Linked DNA regions of Homo sapiens: region 1 is linked to region 2. The links come from fine-mapping of genetic effects on gene expression. A gene starts in region 2. The other region holds a variant in brackets. All regions are shown on one strand. Distances are from middle to middle.

Evidence for each region. PIP is the estimated chance that this variant, and not a neighbour inherited with it, causes the effect.
Region 1: its variant is fine-mapped to the expression of ANKRD54 in esophagus muscle (GTEx, PIP 0.98).

The regions. Positions count from the first base shown.
Region 1 is chr22:37,141,370-37,150,935 of GRCh38, forward strand. IL2RB (interleukin 2 receptor subunit beta) reads right to left here and starts at 8,547. Exons shown (of 10, transcript NM_000878.5): 1 at 8,456-8,547; 2 at 2,716-2,836; 3 at 2,152-2,266; 4 at 1,065-1,143. The coding sequence starts at 2,803. RefSeq lists enhancers at 6,834-6,883, 8,587-8,609, 8,692-8,723, 8,806-8,917 and a promoter at 8,457-9,412. The variant G/A (reference allele first, on the strand shown) is at 3,360.
Region 2 is chr22:37,839,908-37,849,530 of GRCh38, forward strand. ANKRD54 (ankyrin repeat domain 54) reads right to left here and starts at 4,427. Exons shown (of 8, transcript NM_138797.4): 1 at 4,004-4,427; 2 at 280-327. The coding sequence starts at 4,331. MIR658 (microRNA 658) reads right to left here and starts at 4,464; the gene lies at 4,365-4,464. It overlaps MIR659 (microRNA 659), which reads right to left and starts at 7,867; the gene lies at 7,771-7,867. It overlaps EIF3L (eukaryotic translation initiation factor 3 subunit L), which reads left to right and starts at 9,512. Exons shown (of 13, transcript NM_016091.4): 1 at 9,512-9,575. The coding sequence starts at 9,543. RefSeq lists a silencer at 3,898-4,597 and enhancers at 8,631-9,153, 9,154-9,623.

The DNA.
Region 1 (9,566 bases), 700 kb before region 2:
CCCTTGCCTCCGCAGGCTCAGAGCTGTCTGTTCCCACTGCTTGGCCTCTCCCCTGCTTCTGGCACCCGATCTGATCCTGGAGGCACAGTCGGGGCTACGCACTCTGTGGATCCAGTGTGAGTCGGGGACAAGCGGGACCCCTGCCCCTTCCGAGGTAGCCAGGAGCTCTCCTGGGGCAGCTGCAGCTGCCCAAGCCAGGACCCAGGCATCTCTACTGCCCCCACAAGCTCAGGGGTGTCTGCTCCCACTGTCTGGCCTCCTCCTGCTCCAGTGCCCACTCCAATCTCAGAGCGGGACCAAGCCCAGGCACTACCACAGCCTGGCACGCTCGAGGCAGCACTGACTCACTGGCCCCAGCTGCCTCGGCCCCCTCTGGACTTTAGGCACCAATGAGCACAGGGGGATGGGAAGCCACGGGGGTGCAGGGGACAGCTTGGCACTGGCCTGCAGGTGCCCCTTGGCCCGAGCAGCCTGGGCAGAAGGAGGCGGGTCCCTGGTGAGGTCCCACCTTCAGGCTGGGGAGGGCCTGAAAAACAAGGCCCTTGTTGGGCCTTGACCCAACAAGGTAGGTGCCATTATTATGCCCATTTTACAGAAGGGGAGACTGGGGCACAGGGGTTGCCCAATGTCACCCAGCTGGTGAGCCAGGGCTGGAGCATCCAGCTCCAGAGTCTACACCCTTCACCCCCCACACTGCACTGCACTGCCAAGCCCCCGGGAAGAGCTGGGTGTGGTCATTACAGTTACTGGAGTGCTGTCTTACTTGATAAGGAACACAAGTGTCACAGGACCCACAAAGCGCAGGGGAGACAGCAGGAGCAGAGGCAGAATGGCAGATGCCTCACATACAGAGGGTCCGTCGGCCCTGGGGCAGGCCTGAGTCCACTCCCTGGGGTGTCACCTGTTTTTCTCTGCCTCTTGCTCAGCGCTGGGCATCCTGCTTAGCCACAGCCCCAGCCATTGGGCCTCAGCTCTTCCCCTGGCATCCGGCCCACCCTGAGATCGCAGCCCGGAGCTGGGAGACCACCCTCTCCCTGCACTCTCTCCCTGGGTGGGCTACTCACATCTGGGGCTCCGAGGATCAGGTTGCAGGCCCAGGATGCTTGACTCACGGGGAGCAGCTCACAGGTTTGGTTCCACCGCCTTTCATGGCAAAAGACCCTCTTTAGAAGAACAGGAAGGACCCACACAGCTGGCCCAAGGGACTCTTCTCAGATCTCTCTGCTGCCAGGATGGCACCAGGCAGCAAGGCCAGGCTGGGGCCCCTGTGCCAACCACTGTGAGGGGCACTGCCTCCCCCACTGGCTCCATGGCATTCCTCCCTCATGGGCACCTTGTCCTGCTCCCTCATCCCAGCCTGGTCCCACGGCAGCTGGAGTGATCTAGAAACACAAACCACTTCAAGACAGGCAGTCCTCCCCACCTAGAGCCCTCCAAAGCTCCATGAGGCTTAGGATGAAGATAGATCCTTAATTAGGCCTTCAGAGCCGTGTGGAATCACCACCCACCCAGAAGCCAGGGCCCGAACCTGCCTTACCCCTCCATCTCCCTCCCCATTTTCCCCCACCCCACACCCTATGGAATCCACCTGGGCCCAGCCACCTCTCTGTGGTCTTCCTCTTCTCCCTGACCCCATCAAGCCTACCTGGGGTCAGTCCCTCACTCACTGGCCGCCTGGATGTTTACATCACAGTGACATCTCTCTCCCATCCACCAGGCACCCAAACCACTCCCAGGTTCCCTGTCCCCACAGCTGCCTACAGGGTCTCTCAAAATCCGAGCTTATCCAAAAAGCTTGGGGACCCTCCTTTCTCCCCACTTCCTCTCTGCTTGCCTCTAGAGTGGAGTCCAGCCTTGGCATAGCAGGCTTGCAGCTCAGTGTCCCCAAACTACCCTGTCCAGTTCATCCCCAGCCCCTCCACTGCAGCCTGGACTCCACCCAGGTTCTAGAAGTCTAAATAGCTGACTCCCAAATTCTCTTAAACGATCCCTTGATTCCAGGCCTGGGCCCCAACTCCTGTGATTCAAAAAGTCTGTGGGTCCCATTAGTCCAAGATTCTGTAAACGTTGACTCCTTGGAGTCCAGTGCATAGGATCCAGAATATGAGATCCCACCATCCTAAGATTCTGCAGTGTGGCCAGTGGACTCACCGTCTGTCCGGCCAGGCATGGACTTGGCAGGAAGTGTCCTGCAGAGCCCCATCTTGGCTCCAGACACAGGAGATGTTGGCTCTCGAGTTGTAGAAGCATGTGAACTGGGAAGTGCCTGCCGGGCAAGATGAGGTGTGAGTGCTGACTGTAGGTGCCCACAGCCCCCCCAAGACACGCCCACTGCCCCTGCACCTGGCACCCACACCTGCCAGAGGAGGAGGTGGGTAACTCTGGCAAGCGGAGAAGGGATTCATGGACCCACTTCAGAGAGGAGGAAATGGAGCTCCAGAGCCTGCAAGTTCCTACAGGCAAACTAAGGCAAGGCAGGGACAGAAAGTAGCACAAGCCTGTGGCTTGGAGAGGCGTGTGTGTGTGTGTGTGTGTGTGTGTGTGTGTGTGCGCGCATTCATGCATGCATGCCAGGGCAGGGGTCCAGGACAGAGGGTGAGGCAGGAGGTGGACACCTGGTCTCTGGCCCCATCCCCTTCTGGGAAGAGGCTTTAGCAGGGCCTTAGCCATCTCTCCATAGGGAAAGCAGAGCTGTTCAGATGTCAGGGTCCTCACCATTCACCGCTGCAGATGCCCAAGAGGTAGCCAGGGGCAGGAGGAGGATGAGGAGGGGCAGACGCCAGGACAGAGCAGGGGCCGCCATTACATCCACAGGGTGGAGCCGAGGAAGGAAGCCCTGGTGGGAGAGGAGAAAGAGAGAGCACACGTAAATACACATCCCAGGCCTCGCTGCCCCTAGAGGCAGGCTGGGCCCGCCCCCTCAGTGTGCATGGTCTGCACTCCTCGGTGCCAGCTCAGTCCAGCCCCAGGGCCTTTGCACCTGCTAATCCCACCACCCTACACATGCTCACACCCTTCCTTCAAGTTTCTGCTCAACTGCAGCCTCCTTTGAGAGGTCTTCTTTGACTAGACTACATAAAGAAGCACCCGTCGTGGCCAGGCGTGTGGCTCATGCCTGTAATCCCAGCACTTTGGGAGGTCGAGGCAGACGAATCACCTGAGGTCAAGAGTTTGAGACCAGCCTGACCAACATGGTGAAACCCTGTCTCTACTAAAAATACAAAAATTAGCCGGGCAAGGTGGTGGGTGCCTGTAGTCCCAGCTACTCGGGAGTCTAAGACAGGAGAATTGCTTGAACCTGGAGGCGGAGTTTGCAGTGAACCGAGATGGCACCACTGCACTCCAGCCTGGACGACAGA[G/A]TAAGACTCTGTCTCAAAGAAAAAAATAAAAGAAGCACCCTTTGTTACTCACCACCCCCCTACATTTTCATCATAGCATTATTTATTCATCGTTTATTGACTGATTCATGTTTTCCTCTATCTCTCTTCACAAACACACACAGAGTCACGTAAGCTCACTAAGGACAGGTATTTTTGTGTTTTGTTCATTGCTAGGTCCACAATTCCTAGAACAGTGCCTGGCACATAGTAGGCATCTGGCCAAAAAAAATTCTTGAACAAACAAGTGATGGAATAAATATAGACAGAGCTAAAGTCAGCAGGTAGAGGGGCTTCCAGAGGGCTCTGAGGCTAGCCCCTGCCTCTGCCCCTCACTGTCCCTCGAGGGAGCTGAGGCAATGGTGTGAAGGCATCAGGACGCGAACTCGGAAAAGCAGAAAAGCAGATAGGAGCTCTGACCCAAACACTGAAGAGCCCTAGAGGACAGGGGAAACTGAGGCACAGAGGGCTGCAGTAGCCTTTACGGAGGACCTTGTCCACACTCGTACTCCCCTACCTGCCTGGAAGCTCCCTGGAGGCAGGGCCAGGTTGGTCACCCAGATTATACCCCAGGGAGGAAAGAGACATGAAATCTCTAAGCCAGCCCTGTCAGAGGGAGGCTCAAAAGTTTTCCCGGAGTGCCTATTATGCACTGGCCACTGGCCAGTGCTTTATTTATTTACTTTTTTTTTTTGAGACAAAGACTTGCTTCTCAGGGAACCTCTAGCCAACCGTGGAAGCTCCCGTGAGGCAAGACCACAACTGTCGCAGCGGAAATGGGAAAGAAAAGTAGCTGCCCCCACCCTCTGCAGGGGCTGGGTGTGCGGAGGGGAATGAGAAAGTGAGCACATGGTCACTTCGGGAAGATAAGGGGACTGCTTCCAGGAGAGGTGTTTGGAGCAGGCAAAGGGGGAGGCAGGGAGATGAGGAGGGAGCTTCCAGGGAAAGATGAGGGTAGCCTCAGTCAGAGGGGCAGGGGGAGAGGGGAGAGGAGCAGGTGAGTCAAGAGATGTGGAGGAGGTGGAACATCCTTCCCTCCCTCCTGCTCTTCCATCTCGAGAGCTTCCAAGGCTCCTGAGCGTTGGGCATTTCCCCCGCTGTTCCCCCTTCTCCAGCGGCTCCAAACTCGAGCTCTCACTCCCCTTCCCTTCTCTCTCTTGAGCCTCTCACTGGCTCCAGCCCTCAGCTTCCCAGGGTCTTTCTCCAGCTCAGCCCCAAGCCTCCACGTCCCTCCCGATGGTCTGCAGGACCCCCTCACAGGGGATGCTCCTGGACCCGGCAAAAACCCAGCTCATCCCCAGCTCTTCTCCTGTCTGACTTTCAGTTCTGGGACAACTGTACCCTTCCTATTCCAGGTGACCTTTGCCCCCATACCTAGCCAGTCAGGACTCTCCTCAGACAGCAGGACACTCCAGTGACTACTTGTTGTCTCTTCCCCACCCTCACCAGGCCAGCCTCGTGCCGTTCCAGCCCAGACAACGGCACCACCCCATCTGCAGGCTCTCACCTGCCTTCCCTGAAGCCCGCCTCCAACCACCCACATCCCTGCCCAGGAACCTGCAGTGGCCCTGTTGCAATCAAAGCCTAAATTCCCATTTTCGAGGCTTTCTGGGACCGGAATGAGGTCAGCCCACCCTTCCAGACCCTGCCCTCACAGGAGCAGGTGCATGTACCCAGGCCAAAGCACACACACACCGCACCTACCTGCCTGCACAAGCCAGTGGCTCCAGGTGACCAGGAAACCGACACTCACCCTCCAAAGGTCCTTCCCAAGTCTATCCTTTCCCTGGGTCCCCTACAGATCCTGCCATCCTTCAAGCCCATTTCAAACGGGCCCTCATGCCTTTTTCCATGAAGCCTTCCCTGATTTCCGTGATGGAGGGCGAGGGCTTCCTCTTCTGAGCGCCTTGCTCCTCCCTCTAGGCTGGCAGCAGCAGGGCCGGCGTTGACCAGGGGCTGGCCCACCAGCACACTCGCTCCAGGGACTGCTGAGCACAGGGCCGGGCACACAGTCGGTGCTCAATAAATGTAGTGAAATGAATGAGTGTGGTCAGAGGCCTCAGTACGGCAAAAAAAAAAAAGCAGAGCTCTTTAGGTGGCCCTGGATTGTCTCGTGGCTTACATCAGAGCCAGCATGGAGCAGGGACACACACCCTGGCCCCAAGAGCCATGGGTTCCATCTCCTAAGGCAGATGTCACAGGAGTGAGAGTCAGAGGCCCACGCACTGTCAAAGCTGCAAAGGCTCTCTGAGCAAGCACAGTCCCTTGTTCTACATTTGAGAACACTGAGGTCCCGAAGTGGGAAAGACTTGCTGAAGGTTACATCAGGAGCCCAGCACAGAGCTGGGATCAGAACCCAACTCCACGCCGCTCTGCCACCCCCTTAGTCACACCAAAACCATCGGCTGACAGGTTACTGTAAGCCAGGCTCCATTTAAAACTCTTTAAATGCAGCAATCAGGGCCTCTGGCGGGGATACTCTTATTATCCCCATTTTCCAATGAGGAAACGGAGGCACACAGAGGTGAAGTGCGTTGCCTAAGGTCATGCAGTGGATAAGAGGCCTTTCTGGAATCTGAGTCAGGGCAGACTGCCCAGTGCCCAGGCAGGGATCCTCCCCTCCTGGAACTCCCCAGACGCATCTTCCCACCACGACAGCTCACACGACAGTAAATATGCACTGGTGAACTAATAATACTCGTTCTGTGTACTGAGCACATACTCTATGCTAGGCCTGGGGCCAAGTGCCTCACATATGCCAGCTCGTCTAAGCTGCCCAATGGCTTTATTATCCCATTCTACAGATGAGGAAACTAAGGCTCCAAGCCCCTAACTTGCCCAGGGTCATAAACACAGTAAGAGGTGGAGCTAGGGCTCCAGGCTCACTCTCTCATGCTGTCCCACCCTGCCAGACACTGGTCCCAGAGGTAAGGCTGCCACCCTCTCTGTCCTGGGAGTCAGGACCCAGCAGCTCACAGACAGACTGGCAGGTGCTTATTCGGGGTACCATGGGCTCGCCTTTGCCTGGCCTACCGTCTCCACAGGAGGGTGAGCTCCCCAGGGTGGGGGCTGCTCACCTCTTTCTTGGGATCCCCCAATAGCAGAGGGCACAGGGTTGGGACCCCAAAGAGTGCATAGCCCAACCAGGGGACTCCCATAGCCCCTATGCCCCTTCACGCTCAATCATGCCAACCTGGCCCTGGGGCAAGGGGACCATCAATGTTTTGTGTGGGTGTCACCCCAGGTCGGGCCCAGCCTCAGGATGACCCCATGCCCAGGACAGGAACTGCAGAGAGCCCCAGTGTGTGAGGAAGGTGCTGAGGGACAAAGGGGTGCAAGGTCAAAGGAAGGTTAGGGGTAAACCACAGGCCCAGCCTAGAGGCAGCCGGGCAGGAGGAGAAAGCGCCATCTGGAGTCTGCTTCCCGCCGCCTGGAGCTCAGAGGTGCAGCGATGCTCGGAGAGGGCAGAGTCCACGGGAGGATGGTGTGGGGGTGCCAGAGGGGCACAGAGCTGAGGGAGCGCCTGGCAGTCACTGAGGCTGCACCCTCATTCTGCAATGGGGAAGCTGTGCCTCAGGGAGGCCAAGGAACCCACTTAAGGTTGCACGGTGAGGAGAAGCCCAGCCTCGGGTGACAGCAAGTGGAGCCCAGGACCTCGAGTTTGAGCACCCCCTCCTGGGTCCTCAGGCACACCCACACGTGCCCTGTCGTTCATGACTCTGAAACTGGTCACACCCACGGATGCCTACGTCCCCACCACAGCCCTGCAAGGTGGGTCTTGCTGCCCCATTTGATCCATGCCAGAACTGAAGCCCGGAGCGGCTGACCCCAGCCATCTGATTTTCAGAGAGATGCTGCTGGGGACAGGGACTGGTGCCTGCTCTCTCTCTGCCTACACTGCCTGCCCTGAGCGCTCGGGGGTAGTTCAGCTTTTAGCCCTCCCTACAGCCCCATGAGGAGGCTCTAGTATGCCTCCTTTTTGCCAAATGAGGAGACTAAGAAACGGGTCAACCTCTCACCCAGGCGAGAAGGGCATAGAGCTGGGATTTGAACCTGGTCAGGTGCAGTTCGGGGCCCCTGCTGCCATCAGGGGTATATGGTGGCTGGGGCAGGGTGGTAAAGCAGGAGCTCGGGAGCCCATGGTTCATCCAACTTGACCTCTGAACTCAATGGGGCCTATGTCCCCTCGTCCTCTCTGGCCACCTCCACCTGCCACCCCCCTGCTCCCATACACAGTGCTTGTCTCTTGCTATTTAACTTCAGGGGCTTCTCCAGCTGGGTGCGGGACCCTGGCTGTGGGGGAAGGAAGGGGACCCTTGGGGATAGCTCAGCTCCTCACTCCACCTCCCTCCCCCGAGGTGCTACAAACACAGTTAAGAGTGGGAGGCTTCGGCCCCCAGGAGAGGAGAGAGCATGAGCTCCAGGCAGCCCCAAAGATAGGGTCCCATCCCCAATGTCCGGAGATGCTTCTGACCTGTCCAGTCATGCAGCCAAGGGAGGGACAAACCCAGACTCAAACCCAGGGCTCTGCCTCCAGCCTGGGGCTCCCAGAGGCCTCGCAGCAACTTCACTTCATAGATGGCTCTCCAAGGGGACCCTTCTGTCCCCACTTACTCCACAAGCCTCCTGATGAGCACGCAACACAGGGCTGCCTCCCCCGGTATATGGGCCCCACTCCACAGAGGTCAGGAGGGGGCTCCCGCCTGTCCCACCCCATATCCCGTACCCTCTCCGGGCACCCAGGCTATCCACCCATCCCTTCTCCACCTCTCCGGGTTGGGGGCCCAGCACACAGAGCCCAGGGAAGCCCCTCATCCCACAGCAGTCCCTAGCCTCCCCTGAATGGGTTGGGAAGGAGAGCTGACCTGGGACTGGGGACCGCTTTTTCCTCCAGCCAGGAGCCATGAGAGCTGGGCCCAACCCCTCCCTAGGGGAATTCTAAGACAAAGTTGGGGGATGGGAGTTCAGGCAGAAACTGCTGGGGGAACTGAGTCAGAGCTGAAAGTCTTCTCTGTGACTTTCACTCCCAGCCCTCTGGCTGGTCCACAGGGGCCGGGAGGGAGGCAGGGGGACATCACCTGGCTGAGACATGGGGCGGTGGCAGCGCGCGCTCTCCAGTCCTCCCCGGTGCTGGGACCGTGGCCATCTCTCCAGGGCCCTGCTGAGCTCTGGCTGCTGGGGCCGCAAAGACTAAAAGCCCAGAGCCAGCCCACTTCCTGTGCAGAGGATAGAGGGGCAAGGCCTGGGGTGGAGAGGCGGGGAGACGAGGCTTATGAGAAAGCCTGAAACTCCTCAAGCACCCAGGGCCAGATAAAGATCTGCCTCCTACGCTGGGGGCGGCACACACACACACACACACACACACACACACACACACACACACAGACACACATTGTCAAATAGGGGCCTAGCTGCACACAGGAGCCAAGGGAACGCAGGCCCTCCCTCTCTCCCCTCCTACATCACCCCCACGCCAACTCACACAGGCTACCCAACACCTCTGACGCCTCCATCCGGTCACACACATACCCACTAATACGTAGGCTTCACACAAGCAGGTCCCTCTAGGTGACCCCAGCGTCTCACCCTCCTCCCAGCCTGCAACACACCATCTTTCCGAGACTCCCATTTCACCCAGCCTTCCAGGAAGCCCCTTACTCCGTTTAGCATTCAGAGATGACTGTTTTTTTTAGTTTTTAATTTTGTGGGCATGTGGTAGGTGTCTATATTCATGAGGCACATGAGCTATTTTGATACAGGCATACAATGTATAATAATCACATCAGGGTAAATGGGGTATCCATCACCTCAAGTATTTATCCTTTCTTTGTGTTAAAATCCAAGTATACTCTTTTAGTTATTTTTAAATGTACAATAAATTATTGTTGACTAAAGTCACCCTGTTATGCTATCAAATACTAGATCTTATTCATTCGATCTAATTCTGTTTTCGTACCCAACAACAATCCCCACCCCTCCAACCCCCACTGCCCTTCCCATCTCCATCACTGCCCTTCCCATTTCCATGAATTCAATTGTTTTAATTTTTAGCTCCCACAAATAAGTGAGAACATGTGAGCTTTGTCTTTTTGTGCCTGGCCTGTTTCACTTAACATAATGACCTCCAGTTTCAAACATGTGGTTGCAAAGACAGGATCTCATTCTTTTTCATGGCTGAATAGTACTCCA
Region 2 (9,623 bases):
GGATACAAAAGTATACATGGTCTCCACCATCAAGGAGTCCACAGGGTGGTAAATGCTATGACATCAGGAAGTTCAAAGTGACAGGGGAGCATGGGGAGAGTGAGTGTCTAAGCCAGACTTACCTTCAGCAAGATGACTGCACAGTCAGACAATAAATACAGTGAGCCTGCTCCAAGGGCGTGAGTTTGCAGACTGCCTTCCCACATATTGATTACCTGGCCTTTTCCTTCCCCAACCAGCCCATGGGACCCTGTAGCTGGACCTACTGTGCACACTCACCTGTTTCCACATCATTGGCATTGGCCGAGTCCCTCAGTCTCTTCAGAGCTGTAAAGAGAGTAACGGATGCCAGTTTAAAAAAACAGCCATGGCTGGGTGCGGTGGCTCATGCCTATAATCCCAGCACTCTGGGAGGCCAAGGCAGGCAGATCACAAGGTCAGGAGATCGAGACCATCCTGGCTAACATGGTGAAACCCCATCTCTACTAAAAATACAAAAAAATTAGCCGGGCGTGGTGGCAGGTGCCTGTAGTCCCAGCTACTCGGGAGGCTGAGGCGGGTGAATGGCGTGAACCTGGGAGGTGGAGCTTGCAGTGAGCAGAGATCGCGCCACTGCACTCCAGCCTGGGTGACAGAGTGAGACTCCGTCTCAAAACAAACAAACAAACAAACACACACAAAAAAAACACAGCCATTGGCTGGGCATGATGGCTCACGTCTGTAATCCCAGCACTTTGGGAGGCCGAGGCAGGTGGATCACTTGAGGCCAGGAGTTCAAAACCAGCCTGGACAACATGGTGAAACCCCATCTCTACTAAAAATACAAAAAAATTAGCCGGGTGTGGTGCACATGCCTGTAATCCCAGCTACTCTGGAGGCTGAGGTAGGAGAATCACTTGAACCCAGGACATGGAGGTTGCAGTAAGCCAAAATCGCGCCACTGCACTCCAGCCTGGGTGACAGAGTGAGACGCTGTCTCAGAAAAAAACAAAAACAACAAAAACCAACAAAAAAAACCCAGCCATCTAGCTGGGTGTGGTGGTGTGCACGTGTAACACCAGCTACTTAGGAGGCCGAGGTAGGAGAATGGGTTGAAGCCGGAAGGCGGAGGCTACAGTGAGATGAGATCACGCCACTGCATTCCAGCCTGGGCAACAAAGTGAGACTGTCTCAGGAAAAAAAAAAAAAAAAAAAGCCACAATGGCTGGGCGCAGTGGCTCATGCCTATAATCCCGGTACTTTGGGAGGCCAAGGCAGGTGGATCACTTGAGGCCAGGAGTTCAAGACCAGCCTGGCCAACATGCTGAAACCCCATCTCTACTAAAAATACAAAACTAGCCATACGTGGTGACTCACGCCTGTAATCCCAGAACGTTGGAAAGCTGAGGTGGGCAGATTGCCTGTGCTCTGGAGTTTGAAACCACCCTGGGCAACATGGTGAAACCTTGTCTATACTAAAATACAAAAAATTAGTTGGGCATGGGGGTGCACGCCTACAATCCCAGCTACTTGGGAGGCTCAGGCAGGAGAATCGCTTAAGCCCAGGAGGCAGAGGTTGCAGTGAGCCAAGACTGTGCCACTGTACTCCAGCTCGGGCAACAGAGTGAGACTCTGTCTCACACAAACACACACACACACACACACACACACAAAAAACATAGGCCGGGCACAGTGGCTCACGCCTGTAATCCCAACACTTTGAGAGGCCAAGGTGGGTGGATCACGAGGTCAGGAGTTTGAGACCAGCCTGGCCAATAAGGTGAAATCCCTTCTCTACTAAAAATACAAAAATTAGCCAGGCATGGTGGTGCATGCCTGTTATCCCAACTACTCAGGAGGCTAAGGCAGGAGAATCACTTGAACTTGAGAGCCGGAGGTTGCAGTGAGCCAAGATCGCGCCACTGCACTCCAGCCTGGGCAATAGAGCAAGACTCTGTCTCAAAATAAATAAATAAATAAATAAATAAATAAATAAATAAATAAATAAATAAAATAAAAACACAAAAATTAGCCGGGTGTGGTGGTGCATGCCTGTAATCCCAGCTACTTGGGAGGCTGAGACACGAGAATCACTTGAGCCCAAAATCACACCATGGCACTCCAGCCTGGGTGGCAGAGCAACACTCCATCTCAAAAAAAAAGAAAGAAAAAATATTTCTCAATCTTAGGTTAAGTTCTAACTTAAATCAATCTAACATGGTAAAACCCCATCTCTACTAAAAATACAAAAACTAGCTGGGTGTGGTGGTGCGGGCCTGTAGTCCCAGCTACTTGGGAGGCTGAGGCAGTGAGCCGAGATTGCACCACCTGCACTGCAGCCTGGGTGGTAAAGCGAGACTCTCGTCTCAAAAAAAGAAAAGAAAGACAGTGCCCTGGGAACAAGGAGAAACTTGAAATGAGGCGGAGCTAGTACAAAGGCCACATCCTCCTGCAAATCCTCCAAGACTTTTGGAGCCAGATTTCCTCTCTATCACTTGTAGTCACAGGGTGACCTTGAGCAAGCTAGTTAACCCAGCTGGGCCTCAGGTCTATCATCTGCAAAACAAGGCTGAGTTGTTCTGCCAGCCCCGAGTTATTGCAAATGATTTACACAGAAGCTCTTTGTGAGCTGGTTACACAGATAATCTTATATTCTCCTTCAAAGCAGGTCGTTCCCAAATGATTTGCCTAAATTTGGTATTTCCTAAGCAGATTTTCCCCCTCCAATGGCTAATGGAAAGCAATGTCTTTGTCATCGGAGATATGGTCAAAAATTGCAATTCAGATACATGACAATTCCTTGCTTTCATACAGCACTTTATGGTCAATACAACGCTTCCAAATTCTTATTTCATCTTCGTGACATCACTAAAATATGGCTAGAGTCATAGCCAGTCCTGGAAGAAATCCCCAAAGTCCCCATTCTTAATCTCTCAGTGCCTGGGTTTCCATGTCACCCATGCATTGTAGAAGACAATATGGTAGATATACCAGAGGAGAAGTTTGAGTCGGGCTGACCCGGATTCTAATACCAGCAACAGCCACTTGCTATGTGACCTGGAATAAGACAATTTCTCTGAGCCTCAGTTTCCTCTTCAGTAAAGTGGGAACAATTTCTATGTCTCAAAGAGTTCTTGTGAGGACAGATGATCATGTATCAGCAGTGTTTGGGGCACAGCAAAGGCAGCATAACAGCTAAACATCCATTACCTTACTTAACTCATCCCATTTTACAGATGAGAAAACTAGGGCTGAGGCCGGGCCAGTGGCTCATGCCTGTTATGCCAGTACTTTGGGAGGCCGAGGTGGGTGGATCACCTGAGATCAGAAGTTCGAGACCAGCCTGGCAAACATGGTGAAACCCCATCTTTACTAAAATTACAATAATTAGCCGGGCTTGGTAGTGGGCGCCTGTAACCCCAGCTACTCGGGAGGCTGAGGCAGGAGAATCGCTTGAACCCGGGGGGCGGAGGTTGCAGTGAACCAAGATGGCGCCACTGCACTCCAGCCTGGGCAACAGAGCGAGACTCCGTCTCCAAAAAGATAATAATAATAAATAAATAAAAATAAAAAAATTTAAAAAGAAAACTAAGGTTGAAAGGGTCTATCATTTGCCCTAAGGTCTAACTGTGGTAAAGGAGTCCAAGTCCGTGCATTTAAACAAGCTGGTACGACTTGGCTGCAGGCTCTGGCCTCCCCTCTCCATGATAATAAAAGTGTTCCCCAGTACCTCATTTTATTATTCACCAATAAGCGTTCCGAGTCATGGGAAGTTTCCATTCAGAAATTACCCAGTGAGAGAAGACTGGGGTGACTGGCTCAGAGCAGGAAGACTTTCTAAAAAAACCATCATCACCATCGTTACTGAAAGGAGACTCAAGGGTCAGTGTGGCCCTCAGCGCAGACGTCGGGGGACCCCGGCTGAGGGTCGGGGGCGACCAAAGCGCGGCCACTGGTCCTCTGAGGCCCCGCCCCTCGCCCGGGCTGCCCCGCCCCGGGCCCCCGCGCCGCTCGCGCCGCTCACCGTGCACCTCCTTGCCCGTGGGCCCGAGCCGCCGGTGGGGCCTGGCAGCGCGCCTCAGCCGGCCAGCGGGTATCTTGCAGCGCAGCTCGTCGCGCGGCTCCGCATCCTGCTGCCACAGGACGTGCAAGTAGCGCAGCGGCGACTGGGCCCCGCCGGACGCCCGGCCCGAGAGGCCCGCGCCGCCGCCGCCCAGCGCAGACCCGAAGTCAGCGAAGGAGAAGAGGCCCTCAGCGTCAGTCAGCGGCTCCGGCGCCACCGCGCACTCGCCCTCCGAGCTCGAGTGGCCTGAGCGCGGCTCGTCGTCCGCGTCCCCGGCGGCGGCTGCCATGGCAACGGCTCCGCGCGGGCCTGGCCGCCTGAGCCTCGTTCCCGACCGACCAACGGACCTACTTCCCTCCGCCCTGAGTCGTGCTGTCAGCGAGCTGGCGGGCGGGCAGGGCCCGCAACCACGGCAACCGAGCGGGGGCGGGCTCAGGCCGAGACAGAGCGGCGAACCAATGACTACCCTTCCAGCTTAAACCGGTCCCAAAACCAATCGGAAAGGGAGGGCACAGTACAAGCAGGATAATTGGACAGGGTTTCCGGCAACGTGACTGACAGACATTGTAACCAATTACAAACTTGAAGTGACCTTGGCTTTCGCTGTACGTCGCTACCGGAGCCAGTAAAACAGCATTTCAGACGCTTTTTTTTTGCGACGGAGTCTCGCTCTGCCGCCAGGCTCGCGATCTCGGCTCACTGCAACCTCCGCCTCCTTGAAGCAATTCTCCTGCCTCAGCCTCCCGAGTAGCTGGGACTACAGGCGCGCGCCACCACGCCCAGCTAATTTTTGTATTTTTAGTAGAGACGGGGTTTCACCATGTTGGCCAGGATGGTCTCGATCTCTTGATCTCGAGATGTGCCGGCCTCGGCCTCCCAAAGTGCTGGGATTACAGGCGTGAGCCACCGCGCCCGGCCTTTTTTTTTCTTTTTCCTCTCCATTTCCCAGTCTAATGAGAAAACAAGCAGATACCTTAGCAAATCAGATTAAGATGATTTGCAGGCACTCACAAAGGAAAATGAAGAAGCCACGCCATCCATGTAGATATAGATGTTGTAAATCAATGAACGCAAAAAAAAAAAAAAAAAAGAACTTCCCACAAATGCATAATGTACGTGGGAAAGGGAAAATGTGTTGAAATTTGGAGATACCACTACAAACTGTGAGTAATAGTGTCTAAATGCAATGGATTTCCTTTAGTCAGAGTTCTCTAGGTAACCCCGACGTAGATGACTGATCTACAAAGATTTGTAATACAAAGTGATTACATTAGAGCAATAGTTTAGTTCGACAGCCAGTCACTGAGCCAGGTAACTGCTAGGTCCTGGACACAGGATCAGACTTGGTGCCCCTGAGATGCTCACAATCCAATGGGAGAAGACCAGGAAACAAATAAGTGTTCCTCAAGCAACATTTCATGGGTGCACGTTTTCATAAAACTTCTCACAATCCCGTACCCCACAAGCACTTCTATAAAGTAGACAAGAAGGACCATCCCTATTTTATAGGTGAGGAGTTGAAAAGCAGAGGGAAGAGACTCATTCACAGTTGCCCAGCTCTCACCGGACCAGGTCTTGTGTCCTGGCAAAAGTTCTTTCCATATATAAACCCTCCCACTCAACCCAGTTAAAATGTAATCTTTCCGCACGGTGGGTCACGCCTGTAATCCCAGCACTTTGGGAGGCCAAAATGGGCAGATGACAAGGTCGGGAGTTCAAGACAAGCCTGGCCAACATGATGAAACCTCGTTTCTACTAAAAATACAAAAATTAGCTGGGTGTGGTGGCGCACGCCTGTAATCCCAGCTATTCAGGACACTGAGGCAGGAGAGTAGCTTGAACCTGGGAGGCAGAGGTTGCGGTGAGCTGAGATCGCACCATGGCACTCCAGCCTGGGTGACAGAGCGAGACTCCATCTCAGAAAGAAACAAAAACAAAAAAAAGGCCTGGCGCTGTGGCTCACGCCTGTAATCCCAGCATTTTGGGAGGCTGAGGCAGGCAGATCACGAGGTCAGGAGATTGAGACCATTCTGGCTAACATGGTGAAACCCCGTCTCTACTAAAAATACAAAAAAATTAGCCTGGTGTGGTGGTGGGCACCTTTAGTCCCAGCTACTCAGGAGGCTGAGGCAGGAGAATGGCGTGAACCCAGGAGGCAGAGCTTGCGGTGAGCCGAGATCGCACCACTGCACTCCAGTCTGGGCGACAGAGAAAGACTCCATCTCAAAAAGAAAAAAAAAAGTAATCTTTCTCTTACAATTGGAAAAGCACTTCCAGAATTTTCAGTGTTTGCAGTCGCCATTGTGAGGTTTATCATTGTACTATATGGAAAAAAATGCTATGTTTATTTGTACTCTCCTCGTCTGCCCCATAATGGATACAGTGCTGAGACAGGATCTCTCACTGTCACTCAGGCTGGAGTGCAGTGGTGTGATCACAGCTCACTGCACTCAAGCTTTCCTCCCACCTCAGCCTCCTGAGTAGCTGGGGCCACAGATGTGTACCACCGTGCCTGGCTAATTATTTTTTTGATTTTTTGTAGACATGGTCTCACTTTTTTGTTCAGGCTGGTCTTGAACTCCTCGCCTCAAGGGATCCTCCTGCCTCCACATCCCAAAATGCTGAGATTACAGGAGTGAGCCACAGTGCCTGGGCCCCAATTTTTTTTTAAGATGGGGTCTCACTATATTGCCCAGGCTGATCTTGAGCTCCTGAGCTCAAGTGATCCTCCCACCTTGGCCTCCCAAAGTGCTGGCATGAGCCACCACATCCAGCCCCATGAAAATCTTCTGACTTCACAACTCCTTCTCAAATGTCATGAACATTTTGAGAATTGTTGTCAAATTGGAGCAACCTGTATCAAATTCCTGTCATATATGGACTATAAGATTTCAGGTAATTTCTTTTCTTTTTTTTTTTTTTGAGACGGAGTCTCGCTCTGTCGCCCAGGCTGGAGTGCAGTGGCAGGATCTCGGCTCACTGCAAGCTCCGCCTCCCGGGTTCACGCCATTCTCCTGCCTCAGCCTCCCAAGTAGCTGGGACTACAGGCGCCCGCCACTACGCCCGGCTAATTTTTTGTATTTTTAGTAGAGACGGGGTTTCACCATTTTAGCCGGGATGGTCTCGATCTCCTGACCTCATGATCCACCCGCCTCGGCCTCCCAAAGTGCTGGGATTACAGGCGTGAGCCACCGCGCCCGGCCAATTTCTTTTCTTTTTTCTTTTTTTTTTTGAGGCAGTTTTGCTCTTGTTGCCCAGGCTGGAGTGCAGTGGTGCAATCTTGGCTCACCACAACCTCCGCCTCCTAGGTTCAAGTGATTCTCCTGCCTCAGCCTCCCGAGTAGCTGGGACTACAGGCATATGCCACCATGCCCGGCTAATTTTATATTTTTAGTAGAGACGGGGTTTCACTATGTTGGCCAGGCTGGTCTCGAACTCCTGACCTCAGGTGATCCATCTGCCTTGGCCTCCCAAAGTGCTGGGATTACAGGTGTGAACCACTGTGCCAGGCCTCGGAGAAGGGTTATTATTTAAACTAGAAACTAAATGTCTCCCAAAGTTAGCTCGGTTCGAGCCAGGAATGATTAAGGGCAGTCTGAAGATTAAATGGAAGATGAGGGTTGGTTAGATCAGATCTCTTTCACTGTCATTATTTTCTCACTGTTACAATTTTTGCAAAGGTGGTTTCAGCAATAAAAATATTTCACAAATTTTACAAAAGCAAAGGACCATGAGGACATTGTTGGGGACCCTCCCTGAACCAAGGAAGAGACTGTGACTCTTCCTTGGTTCAGGGAAGGTCCTGAACCAAATCGAGGGTCGGTAAAGCTTAAGCTCCATTATTTCCAAATTTGTGTCACCTCTGGTGACAGCACAAGGAAGAAACACAAAACAAGAACGCAGCATAGGGAGTTGGGGCTGGGCATTGCAATTCTCAATAGGATGTTGAGTGGATGGCATCAGAGCAGACACCTGAAGGTGCCATGCAGATACCGATGGGGAAGGGAATGGGAGTGGGGGTGCCACTGCATTCGATTCTAGACTTGGATAACAGTGAGTGCAAAATCCCAGAGGTGGAGCGTGCCTCAGTGGGAAAAGCAAGGAGGGCGGCGTGACAAAGGGACCCAGAGAGTCCTGGTCACACAGCAAATCAGTGGCGGAGTAGGGACTGGAACTCGGATTTCCACTAGGTGTTGTGTATGGGCAGATGGCTAAACTAAGGCCTCTCCTTGACTCATACACCGGTTTTTATTGGTTTGCTTTATAACCCCATCTCTACCTTGAGGGTTTCCCCTGGCCTCGAACCCGGTGTACTCAAGAGCTGCCCATGTCCCAGGCTTCGCGACACAGCTGGCCTCATCTTTGCCTGCTCCAACTTTAATGTCCAAAGTTGGGTGGCTCCTGTTCTCCATTCCCTCTTACTGCATGGGACCAAATCTCAATTTTTTTTTTTCTTTTTTTTTTTAGACGGAGTCTTGCTCTGTCGCCCAGGCTGGAGTGCAGTGGCGCGATCTCGGCTCACTACAGCCTCTGCCTCTCAGGTTCCACCGATTCTCCTGCTTCAGCCTCCTGAGTAGCTGGGATTACAGGCGGACGCTACCACTCCCGGCTAATTTTTGTATTTTTAATAGAGACGGGGTTTCGCCATTTCGGCCAGGCTGGTCTCGAACTCCTGATCTCAGATCATCCACCCGCCTCGGCCTCCCAAAGTGTAGGGATTACAGGCGTGAGCCATCGCGCCCGGCCAAATCTCAATTTTTATCCCCAGTAAGTTTAGTCTTGTGAAGTCCGAACGTTTGAATAATTTACTCGCTGCAGGCAAACCGCCTACAACTAAATCCATCAGGCCCCCGTATCCGAATCTTCCTTCACGCGAGAAGCCGGCCATCTTTTGTGTAGCATTCTTTCTGGTTCCTCTAACTTTGCCTCTCCTTTACGCCAAATACGTGTCCTTATATCTGAATCTACACCACTATTATAGATTCACCTTCTTTGAGAAGTCCCTATTTGAAGAGAGGAAAATTCAGGCTACTTGTAACCCTCTTATTCTTTTTAGACGGAGTTTTCCCTCTTGTTGCCCAGGCTAGAGTGCAATGGCGCGATCTCGGCTCACCGCAACCTCCGCCTCCCGGGTTCAAGCGACTCTCCTGCCTCAGCCTCCCGAGTAGCTGGAATTACAGGCATGCGCCACCACTCCCGGCTAATTTTGTATTTTTAGTAGAGACGGGGTTTCTCCATATTGGTCAGGCTGGTCTCAAACCCCCGGCCTCAGCCTCAGGTGATCCGCCCGCCTCGGCCTCCCAAACTGGTGGGGTTACAGGTGTGAGCCACGGAACGCGGCTCCTCTTCCTTCTGGATATGGCTGTCTCAGATGGCCAGAGGCCTCGGAAAGGCTTCCGGTTTCCCGGCAGGCCCGAGTGGGGCTGAACTTCCGGCCTCAGGACGCAGGCGCGGGCCGCTCATTTCGCTCTTTCCGGCGGTGCTCGCAAGCGAGGCAGCCATGTCTTATCCCGCTGATGATTATGAGTCTGAGGTAAGGTGGCCGTAAGGGCGCGGTGGGCTCCACGACGGGGTGATCTCT